Linked DNA regions of Homo sapiens: region 1 is linked to region 2. The links come from fine-mapping of genetic effects on gene expression. A gene starts in region 2. The other region holds a variant in brackets. All regions are shown on one strand. Distances are between the middles of the regions. Region 1 overlaps PSEN1 (presenilin 1). Region 2 holds the start of PSEN1 (presenilin 1).

Region 1 (5,000 bases), 22 kb after region 2:
TTTAGAAATACATACTAAAATATTTATGAAGGAAATGATATATCTAAGATTTGCCTCAAAATAATACTGGAGTGGCAAAGTGAGCGGGGGAGTAGATGAAACAAGATTAGCATGAGTTCATAATTATTGAAGTTGAATAAATTGCACATGGGCTTCATTGTACATTTCTGACAGTATTTGTTTGAACTTTTTCCATAATAAAAAGTTTTGTTTGTTTTTTTTTTTGAGATGGAGTCTTGCTCTGTCACCCAGGCTGGAGTGCAGTGGCATGATCTCGGCTCACTGCAAGCTCCGCCTCCCAGGTTCACGCCATTCTCCTGCCTCAGCCTCCAGAGTAGCTGCGACTACAGGCGTCCGCCACCATGCCCAGCTAATTTTTTGTAATTTTAGTAGAGATGGGGTTTCACTGTGTTAGCCAGGATGATCTCGATCTCCTGACCTTGTGATCCGCCCGCCTGGGACTCCCAAAGTGCTGGGATTACAGGCATGAGCCACCACGCCTGGCCTTTTTTTTAAAATGGTCTTACAGGTAATACCATGCATGCTTAAGTCATCATTCTCATATTTAGCTACCAAGATTTTTCCTTTCGGAAATCCCTCAGTATTCTAGTACCACTTTCCTCTCATTTGACACTTTTCAAAGCACCTACACACTCCCTTGAGAAAGATACCTTTTTTTTTTTTTGCGAGGGAGTTTCACTCTTTTGTTGCCCAGGCTGGAGTGCAGTGGCATGATCTTGGCTCACTGCAACGTCTGCCTCCTGGGTTCAAGCGATTCTCCTGCCTCAGCCTCCTGAGTAGCTGGGATTACAGGCACGCACCACCACACCCAGCTAATTTTTTTGTATACTTTTTTTTTTTTAAGTACAGATGGGGTTTCACCGTGTTGGCCAGGCTGGGCTCAAACTTCTGACTTCAGATGATCCGCCTGCCTCGATCTCCCAAAGTGCTGGGATTACAGGCGTGAGTCACCACGCCCAGCCCAAGAAAGATACATTTTTAAAAACAGCTTTATTGTGGTATAATTGACGTAAAATGTACATACTTAAAGTATACAGTGTGATGTTTTGATATATATGTATACTCTTGAAACCACCACCACAGTTAAAATAATGAAAATGTCCATTACCTCCAGAAGTTTCTTCATGTTTTGTTGTAATCTCTCCTTCTCCTCCCTGATTCCTCCCCATCCCCAGGCAACCATGTTTTGTCACCGCGCGCAGCCATTTACTATTATGATACTATTTTATATAAATAGTATCATACAGGCCGGGCACGGTGGCTCATGCCTGTAATCCCAGCACTTTGGGAGGTCGAGGTGGGCGATGACTTGAGGCCACCTGGCCAACATGAAACCCCTTCTCTATTAAAAATGCAAAAATTAGCCAGGGGTGGTGGCGTGCACCTGTAATCTCAGCTCCTCAGGAGGCTGAGACATGAGGATTGCTTGAACCCAGGAGGCAGAGGTTGCAGTGAGCTGAGATTGTGCCACTGCACTCCAGCCTGGGCAACAGAGTGAGTCTCTGTCTAAAAAAAAAACAAAACATACAGACTCTTGTCTGGCTTCTTTCTTTCAGCATAATTATTTTGAAATTCGTCCATGTTATGTGGTTCCTTTTTATTGCTGAGTTGTATACCACAGTTTTTGATCTATTTACTTGTTGGTAGATATTTGGATTTTCAGTTCTGAAGCATTACAGATAGTGGCTGTTACGGATATTCATGTACAGATCTTTCTTTGTATGGGCATATGCTTTAATTTATCTTGGGCAAATACCTAGGAGTAGAATATGATCCAATATGGTAGGTGTATATTTAACTTTTTTTTCTATCTATCTATCTATCTATCTATCTATCTATCTATCTATCTATCTATCTATTTTTAAGACGGAGTTTTGCTCCATCTGGAGCAAAGGCTGGAGTGCAGTGGCATGATCTTGGCTCACTGCAACCTCTGCCTCCTGGGTTCAAGTGATTCTCCTGTCCCAGCCTCCCCAGTAGCTGGGATTACAGGCGCCTGCCACCACACCCAGCTAATTTTTGTATTTGTAGTAGAGGCTAGGTTTCTTCATGTTGGCCAGGCTGGTCTTGAACTACTGATCTCAAGTGATCTGCCTCGGCCCCCCAAAGTGTTGGGATTACAGGCGTGAGCCATCACACCTGGCCAGTTTTTATTTATATTTTTTATAGAAGATGGAGTCTT[C/T]CTATGTTTCACAGGCTGATCTTGAACTCCAGGCCTCAAGTGATCCTCCCGCCTTGGCTTCCCAAAGTGCTGGGATTATAGGCATGAGCCTCTATGCCCAGCCTTATATTTAACTTTTTAAGGTACTACCAAAGAACTTTCCAAACTGGTTGTATAATTTTACATTTCTACCAGCAGTATGAGTTCCAGTTCCTCCACATCCTGTCAGTACTTGATACTGTCAGTCTTTTAAATTTTTTAGCTCTTATAAAAAGGTATATAGTTACATCTCATTTTGGTTTTAATTTACATTTCTCTATTGAGTAATGATGTTGAGTTTCTTTTCATGTGCTTGTCATCCTGATATCTTTGGTGACTTGTCTGTTCAAATCTCTTGCCCATTTAAAAATTGCTTTCTTAATGGATTTTAAGAATTATTTACATAGTCTGGATACAAGTCCTCTGTAATATATATAATTTGCAAGTGTTTTCTCCCAGACTGTGGCTTTTCTTTTTATTAACAGTGCTTTTTGAAGGGCAGATTTTTTTTTTTTTTTTTAAAGAGACAGAGTCTTGCCCTGTCACCCAGGCTGGAGTATAGTGGTGTGATTATAGCTCACTGCAGCCTCAAACTCCTGAGCTCAAAGAATTCTTCTGCCTCATTCTTCCAAACAGCTAGGACTACAGATGTGTGCCACTGCACCCAGCTAATTCCGTTTGTATTTCATTGATTGTGTTTTTGGTGTCACATCTTAAGAAACTTTGGCCTACTTCAAGTTCTCAGGAGTTTTTTCCTGCATTTTCTTCTGGAAGCTTTATAGTTTCATGTTTTACATTAGGTCTGTGATCCTTTTGAAGTTGATTGTTATACGTGGTCCAAGGTATGGATCAAAGTTCATTTTTCTGCATATGGATATTCAATTGTTTCAGCACTGTTTTTTAAAAAAGACTATTTTCTCCACTGAAGTGCCTTTGTACCTTTGCAAAAATCAGTTGTCCATATATGTGTCAATCTGTTCCATCAGTCATGGGTCAAAGGCTGTTCTCATGGGGAGGCTTTTGAATTTGAAAAACTGAAACTCTATACTCATTGGACAACTTTATACCCATTGAACAACTCCCCATTTTCCATTTCTCTCAGCCCGTGGCAATATGCTTTCTGTTTCTATAACATGGACTACTTGAGTTTTTTTCTTTTTTTTGATGACAAGATCTCACTCCGTTGCCCAGGCTAGAGTGCAGTGGCATGATCTTGGCTCATGGCAGCCTTCACCTCCTGGGCTCAAGCTGTCTTCCCACCTCAGCCTCCTGAGTAACTGGAACTACAGGTGCACTCTATCATGCCTCGCTAATTTTTTAATTTTTTTGTAGAGACGAGTTCTCGCCATATTGGCCAGGCTGATCTCAAACTCCTGGGCTCAAGTAATCCTCCCACTTTGGCCTCCCAAAATACAGAGATTATGGGTGTGAGCCATCATGCCCAGCTGGCTAGATATTTCATGTAAGTGGAATCATACATTATTTCTCTTTTAGTGACTTGCTTATTTTGCTTAGCATAATGTCCTCAAGGTTCATCTATATTGTAGCATGTGACAAGATTTCCTTTTTAAGGGCTGAATAATATTCTGTGTTATGTATATACCACATATCTGTGAGTAGACATTTGGGTTACTTCCACTTCGTGGCTATACTGAATAATGCTATGGTGAAAGTGGCTATGCACATATCTGTTTGAGGTCTTGTTTGTAATTCAGTTCGTTTTTATATATACTCATTGGTATTTATATAAATGGGATTGCTGGGTCATATGGTAGTTTAATTTTTTGAGGAACCTCCATATTGTTTTCCATGGTGGCTGCACCATTTTACATTCCCACCAACAATGCATAGTGGTTCCAATTTCTTCACAACTTTACCACCGCTTGTTACTTTCTGTTTTTTGGTAGTGGCCATCCTAACGGGTGTAGTTTTTTTTTGCATTTTTCTAATGATTAGTGATGTTGAGCATCTTTTCTTTTTTCCCCCCATATTACACAGATGTAGAGCATCTTTTCATGTGCTTGTTGGCTATTTGTATATCTTCTTTGAAGAAATATCTGTTCAAGTCCTTTGCCCATCTAAAAAAATCTGATGATTTGTTTTTTTCCAATTGTTTAATTGTAGGACTTTTTTTTTTTTTTTTTTTTTTGAGATGGAGTCTCGCTCTGTCGCCCATCCTGGAATGCAGTGGCGCGATCTTGGCTCACTGCAAGCTCCACCTGCCGGGTTCATGCTATTGTAGGACTTTTTAATGTATTCTGGATATTAATCTCTTACCAGATATATGATTTGCTTTTTTTTTTTTTTTTTTTCGATACAAGGTTTTACTGTGTCACCCAGGCTGGAGTAAAGTAGTGATGTAATCTGGGCTCACTGCAACTTCCGCCTCCCAGGCTCAAGCAGTCCTTCCACCTCAGCCTCCTGAGTAGCTGGAACTATAGGCACTCGCCACCATACCCACCTAATTTTTGTATTTTTTGTAGAGACGGAGTTTCACCATGTTGCCCAGGCTGGCCTTGAACTCCCAGGCTCAAGCAATCCACCTGCCTTAGCCTCCCAAACTGCTGGGGTTGTAGATGTGAGCTACCACACCCAGCCTGATTTGCAGATATTTTCTCCAGTTCTGTAGGTTGCCTTTTCACTCTGATGACTGCTTCCTGTGGTGTGTAGAAATTTGGTGTAGGCCCATTTGTCTATTTTTGTTTTTGTTCTTTAATTTCTCTTAGCAATATTTTGTAAGTTTCATTGTACAGGATATTTGGGGATCTGTAAGACAACC
Region 2 (5,531 bases):
TGCCTCAGGCCATCCGGATGTATACGTGAAGGCTTGGGCTCAGAGGCCTAACAGTAGGACATAAAGAAAATGAGAAGAAAATTATCTGAAGGCTGGTTATTCAATGTTAGGGTTTGCTATTTTTTTAAAATCTTACTGCCTTTTTGTTGCAGGACTTTTTTTTTTTTTTGGGAAAAACAGAGTCTCACTGTGTCTCCCAGGCTGGAGTGCAGTGGTGCAAACTCGGCTCACTGCAAACTTTCCTTCTCAGATTCAAGCCTCAGCCACCTGAGTAGCTGAGATTACAGGCCCACACCACCATGCCGGGCTAATTTTTGTATTTTTAATAGAGACGGGGTTTCACCATGTTGTCCAGGCTGGTCTTGTACTCCCAACCTCAAGTGATCCTCCTGCCTTGGCCTCCCAAAGTGCTGGGATTACAGGCATGAGCCACCGTGACCAGGCGTTCATGAAAAATTTTCATGACATTCTGTGAGGTGGGTGGACCATAATTTATTGTACCACATTTATTTATTTATTTATTTATTTATTTATTTATTTATTTATTTATTTTTATTTTTTGAGACATAGTTTCGCTCTTGTTGCCCAGGCTGGAATGCAATGGCGCAATCTCGGTTCACTGCAACCTCTGCCTTCCAGGCTCAAGCAATTCTGCCTCAGCCTCCCAAGTAGCTGGGATTACAGGCATGCGCCACCACGCCTGGCTAACTTTTTTTGTATTTTTAGTAGAGACGGGGTTTCTCCATGTTGATCAGGCTGGTCTCGAACTCCTGACCTCAGATGAGCCGCCCACCTTGGCCTCCCAAAGTGCTGGAATTACAGGCGTGAGCCACCGCACCCTGCCTATTGTACCATATTTAGTTTCCCAATTTTTTGCTATATAATATTCCATGAATATCTTTGCCCAAAATTTTTGTAGATTGTTTCTAAGAATAGTTCATCAGCATTTTAAGACATCCTATTAATATTAGCGGACTGCAATCAGATTGAAGTAGTTCACAAATAGATGGGTTTTAGCCTGTATTTGTTCAATACTGAACTATTGTATGTATCAGGCACTGTTATGTATCAGGCACTGTTCTCAGCACTTGTAAAATGTATATGTGCTGCTGACAAGCATGAGCACTTGTAAATGAACAAACTAAAATCCCTACTCTTGTTAAAGTGGGGGAGGTGAAGAATTTTAAAAACATCTTTTTTCGTTCAACCTTCTCCCACAACTTATCTTTCATTCTGCTAATGGAAAATATTACTTTTGTTCTTAAATATGAAGCTTTTGTGTGTAAAAAGTATTAGAATCTCATGTTTTTGAACAAGGTTGGCAGTGGGTTGGGAGGAGGGATTGGAGATTGATGCGATAGGAATGTGAAGGGATAGCTTGGGGTGGATTTTATTTTTTAATTTTAATTTTTATTTTTTGAGATGGAGTCTTGCTCTGTCTCCCAGGCTGGAGTGCAGTGGTGTGATCTCAGCTCACGGGTTCAAGCGATTCTCCTGCTGCAGCCTCCCGAGTAGCTGGGATTACAGGAGCGCGCCACCACACCCGGCTAATTTTTTTGTATTTTTAGTAGAGACGGGGTTTCACCATGTTGGTTAGGCTGGTCTAGAACTCCCAACCTCATGATCCGCCTGCTTCGGCCTCCCAAAGTGCCGGAATTACAGGCGTGAGCGACTGCACCCGGCCGCTTGGGGGTGGATTTTTAAAGAAACTTTAGAAGAATGTAACTTGCCCAGATACCATGTACCGTTAATTTCATTTTCGGTTTTTTGAATACCCATGTTTGACATTTCTCCGTTCACCTTGATTAAATAAGGTAGTATTCATTTTTTAGTTTTAGCTTTTGGATATATGTGTAAGTGTGGTATGCTGTCTAATGAATTAGACATTGGTACTGTCTTTACCAAAACTGGACAAAGAGCAGGCAGATGCAAAAATCAAGTGACCCAGCAAACCAGACACATTTTCTGCTCTCAGCTAGCTTGCCACCTAGAAAGACTGGTTGTCAAAGTTGGAGTCCAAGAATCGCGGAGGATGTTTAAAATGCAGTTTCTCAGGTTCTCGCCACCCACCAGAAGTTTTGATTCATTGAGTGGTGGGAGAGGGCAGAGATATTTGCGATTTTAACAGCATTCTCTTGATTGTGATGCAGCTGGTTCGCAAATAGGTACCCTAAAGAAATGACAGGTGTTAAATTTAGGATGGCCATCGCTTGTATGCCGGGAGAAGCACACGCTGGGCCCAATTTATATAGGGGCTTTCGTCCTCAGCTCGAGCAGCCTCAGAACCCCGACAACCCACGCCAGCGCTCTGGGCGGATTCCGTCAGGTGGGGAAGGCCAGGTGGAGCTCTGGGTTCTCCCCGCAATCGTTTCTCCAGGCCGGAGGCCCCGCCCCCTTCCTCCTGGCTCCTCCCCTCCTCCGTGGGCCGGCCGCCAACGACGCCAGAGCCGGAAATGACGACAACGGTGAGGGTTCTCGGGCGGGGCCTGGGACAGGCAGCTCCGGGGTCCGCGGTTTCACATCGGAAACAAAACAGCGGCTGGTCTGGAAGGAACCTGAGCTACGAGCCGCGGCGGCAGCGGGGCGGCGGGGAAGCGTATGTGCGTGATGGGGAGTCCGGGCAAGCCAGGAAGGCACCGCGGACATGGGCGGCCGCGGGCAGGGCCCGGCCCTTTGTGGCCGCCCGGGCCGCGAAGCCGGTGTCCTAAAAGATGAGGGGCGGGGCGCGGCCGGTTGGGGCTGGGGAACCCCGTGTGGGAAACCAGGAGGGGCGGCCCGTTTCTCGGGCTTCGGGCGCGGCCGGGTGGAGAGAGATTCCGGGGAGCCTTGGTCCGGAAATGCTGTTTGCTCGAAGACGTCTCAGGGCGCAGGTGCCTTGGGCCGGGATTAGTAGCCGTCTGAACTGGAGTGGAGTAGGAGAAAGAGGAAGCGTCTTGGGCTGGGTCTGCTTGAGCAACTGGTGAAACTCCGCGCCTCACGCCCCGGGTGTGTCCTTGTCCAGGGGCGACGAGCATTCTGGGCGAAGTCCGCACGCCTCTTGTTCGAGGCGGAAGACGGGGTCTGATGCTTTCTCCTTGGTCGGGACTGTCTCGAGGCATGCATGTCCAGTGACTCTTGTGTTTGCTGCTGCTTCCCTCTCAGATTCTTCTCACCGTTGTGGTCAGCTCTGCTTTAGGCATATTAATCCATAGTGGAGGCTGGGATGGGTGAGAGAATTGAGGTGACTTTTCCATAATTCAGGTGAGATGTGATTAGAGTTCGATCTGCGGTGGTGGCAGAGGCTTACAAGAAACACTAACGGGACATGGGAACCAATTGAGGATCAGGGAATAAAGTGTGAAGTTGACTAGGAGGTTTTCAGTTTAGAACATGGCAGAGACATTCTCAGAAATAAGGAAGTTAGGAAGAAAGACCTGGTTTAGAGAGGAGGGCGAGGAAGTGGTTTGGAAGTGTCACTTTGGAAGTGCCAGCAGGTGAAAATGCCCTGTGAACAGGACTGGAGCTGAAAACAGGAATCAATTCCATAGATTTCCAGTTGATGTTGGAGCAGTGGAGAAGTCTAAGCTAAGGAAGGGGAAGAGGAGGCCAAGGCAAACACTTAGGAACACTTGCAACGAGGGGGTGGAAGAAGAGCAAGGAGCCAGCTGAGGAGAATGAGTGTGGTTGGAGAACCACCACAGCGCAGGGTCGCCAGAGCTGAGGAAGGGGAGGGAAGCTTCAGGAAGGAAAAGGTTGGCAGGGATTTTGAGTGTTAGGCCTGGTGTAGCAGAAGGAACAGAAGATTTAGAGCAGCGCTAGCCAATAGAAATAAAATGTGAGGCCCGGGGCGGTGGCTCACGCCTGTAATCCCAGCACTTTGGGAGGCCGCGGGGCGGATCCTTGAGCTGAGGAGTTCGAGACCAGACAACACGGCGAAACCCCGGCTCTACAAAAAATTAGCTGGGCGTGGGGGCGCGCGCCTGTAGTCCCAGCTGCTCCCAAGCGAGGCTGAGGCAGGAGAATCACTTGAACCCGGGAGAAGGAGGTTGCAGTAAGCCAAGATTATGCCACTGCACTGCAGCCTGGGCAAAAGAGTGAGACTGTCTCAAAAAAAAAAAAAACCTGTTTTGTTTTTCTTTTGGAGAAAAGGCATACAAATTTATTAGCATGCAGACTGGGAGAACCACAAGGTGATTATCCCTATTTTAAATTTTCTAATAAACATACTATTATTTATTTATTTATTTATTTATTTATTTATTTATTTATTTTTTGAGACGGAGTCTGGCTCTGTCGCCCAGGCTGGAGTGCAGTGGCGCGATCTCAGCTCACTGCAAGCTCCGCCTCCCGGGTTCACGCCATTCTCCTGCCTCATCCTCCCCAGCAGCTGGGACTACAGGCGTCCGCCACCACGCCCGGCTAATTTTTTTGTATTTTTAGTAGACACGGGGTTTCACCGTGTTAGCCAGTATGGTCTCGATCTCCTGACCTCGTGATCCGCCCGCCTCGGCCTCCCAGAGTGCTGCGATTACAGGCGTGAGCCACCCTGCCCGGCCGGCTATTTATTTTTTTAGAGATGGGAGCCTCACTATGTTGCCCAGGCTGGTCTTGAACTCCTGGAGTCAAGTGATCCTCCCGCCTTGGCCTCCCAGAGTGGTGGGATACAGGCACAAGCCACTGTGCCTAGCCATAAACACATTTTTAAAGGTAAAAAAAGGCCGAGCGCGGTGGCTCACCCCTGTAATCCCAGCACTTTGGGAGGCCGTGGCGGGCGGATCATGAGGTCAGGAGATCGAGACATCCTGGCTAACACGGTGAAACCCCATCTCTACTAAAAAATACAAAAAAAAAAAAATTAGCCGGGCGTGATGGCGGGCGCCTGTAGTCCCAGCTACTCGGGAGGCTGAGGCAGGAGAATGGCGTGAACCCGGGAGGCGGAGCTTGCAGTGAGCGGAGATCGCGCCACTGCACTCCAGCCTGGGCGACAGAGCCAGACTCTGTCAAGAAAAAAAGAAAAAAAATGTAAAAAGAGGCTGGGTGGCCGGGCGCAGCGGCTCACGCCTGTAAACCCAGCACTTTGGGAGGCCGAGGCGGGTGGATAACCAGATCAGGAGATGGAGACCATCCTGGCTCACGCGGTGAAACCCCGTCTCTACTAAAAGTACAAAAAATTAGCCAGACATGGTGCCAGGCACTTGTAGTCCCAGCTACTCGGGAGGCTGAGGCAGGACAATGGCGTGAACCCAGGAGGCGGAGCTTGCAGTGAGCCGAGATCGCGCCACTGCACTCCAGCCTGGGCAACAGAGTGAGACTTCGTTTTTTTTTTAAAAAAAGGCTGGGCACAGTGGCTCACACCTGTAATCTGCCAGCACTTTGGGAGGCCGAGGCAGGTAGATCACCTGAGGTCAGGAGTTCGAGACCAGCCTCGCCAAAATGGTGAGACCCTGTGTCTACTAAAAATACAAAAAATTAGCCGGGTGTGTTGGCGTGTACCTGTTATCCCAGCTACTCGGGAGGTGAGGCAGGAGAATCGCTTGAACCCAGAAGGTGGA

Evidence for each region. PIP is the estimated chance that this variant, and not a neighbour inherited with it, causes the effect. A credible set is the group of variants that fine-mapping cannot tell apart.
Region 1: its variant is the best candidate, but not a certain one, in a credible set for the expression of PSEN1 in whole blood (INTERVAL, PIP 0.51).

What each region holds. Positions count from the first base shown.
Region 1 is chr14:73,156,456-73,161,455 of GRCh38, forward strand. All of the region lies in intron 3 of PSEN1 (presenilin 1), which reads left to right. Among named protein-coding and RNA genes, the nearest start is that of PSEN1, 22 kb to the left of the region's middle. The variant C/T (reference allele first, on the strand shown) is at 2,204.
Region 2 is chr14:73,133,984-73,139,514 of GRCh38, forward strand. It overlaps PSEN1 (presenilin 1), which reads left to right and starts at 2,524. Exons shown (of 12, transcript NM_000021.4): 1 at 2,524-2,600. RefSeq lists silencers at 2,304-2,383, 2,644-2,703 and an enhancer at 2,874-2,983.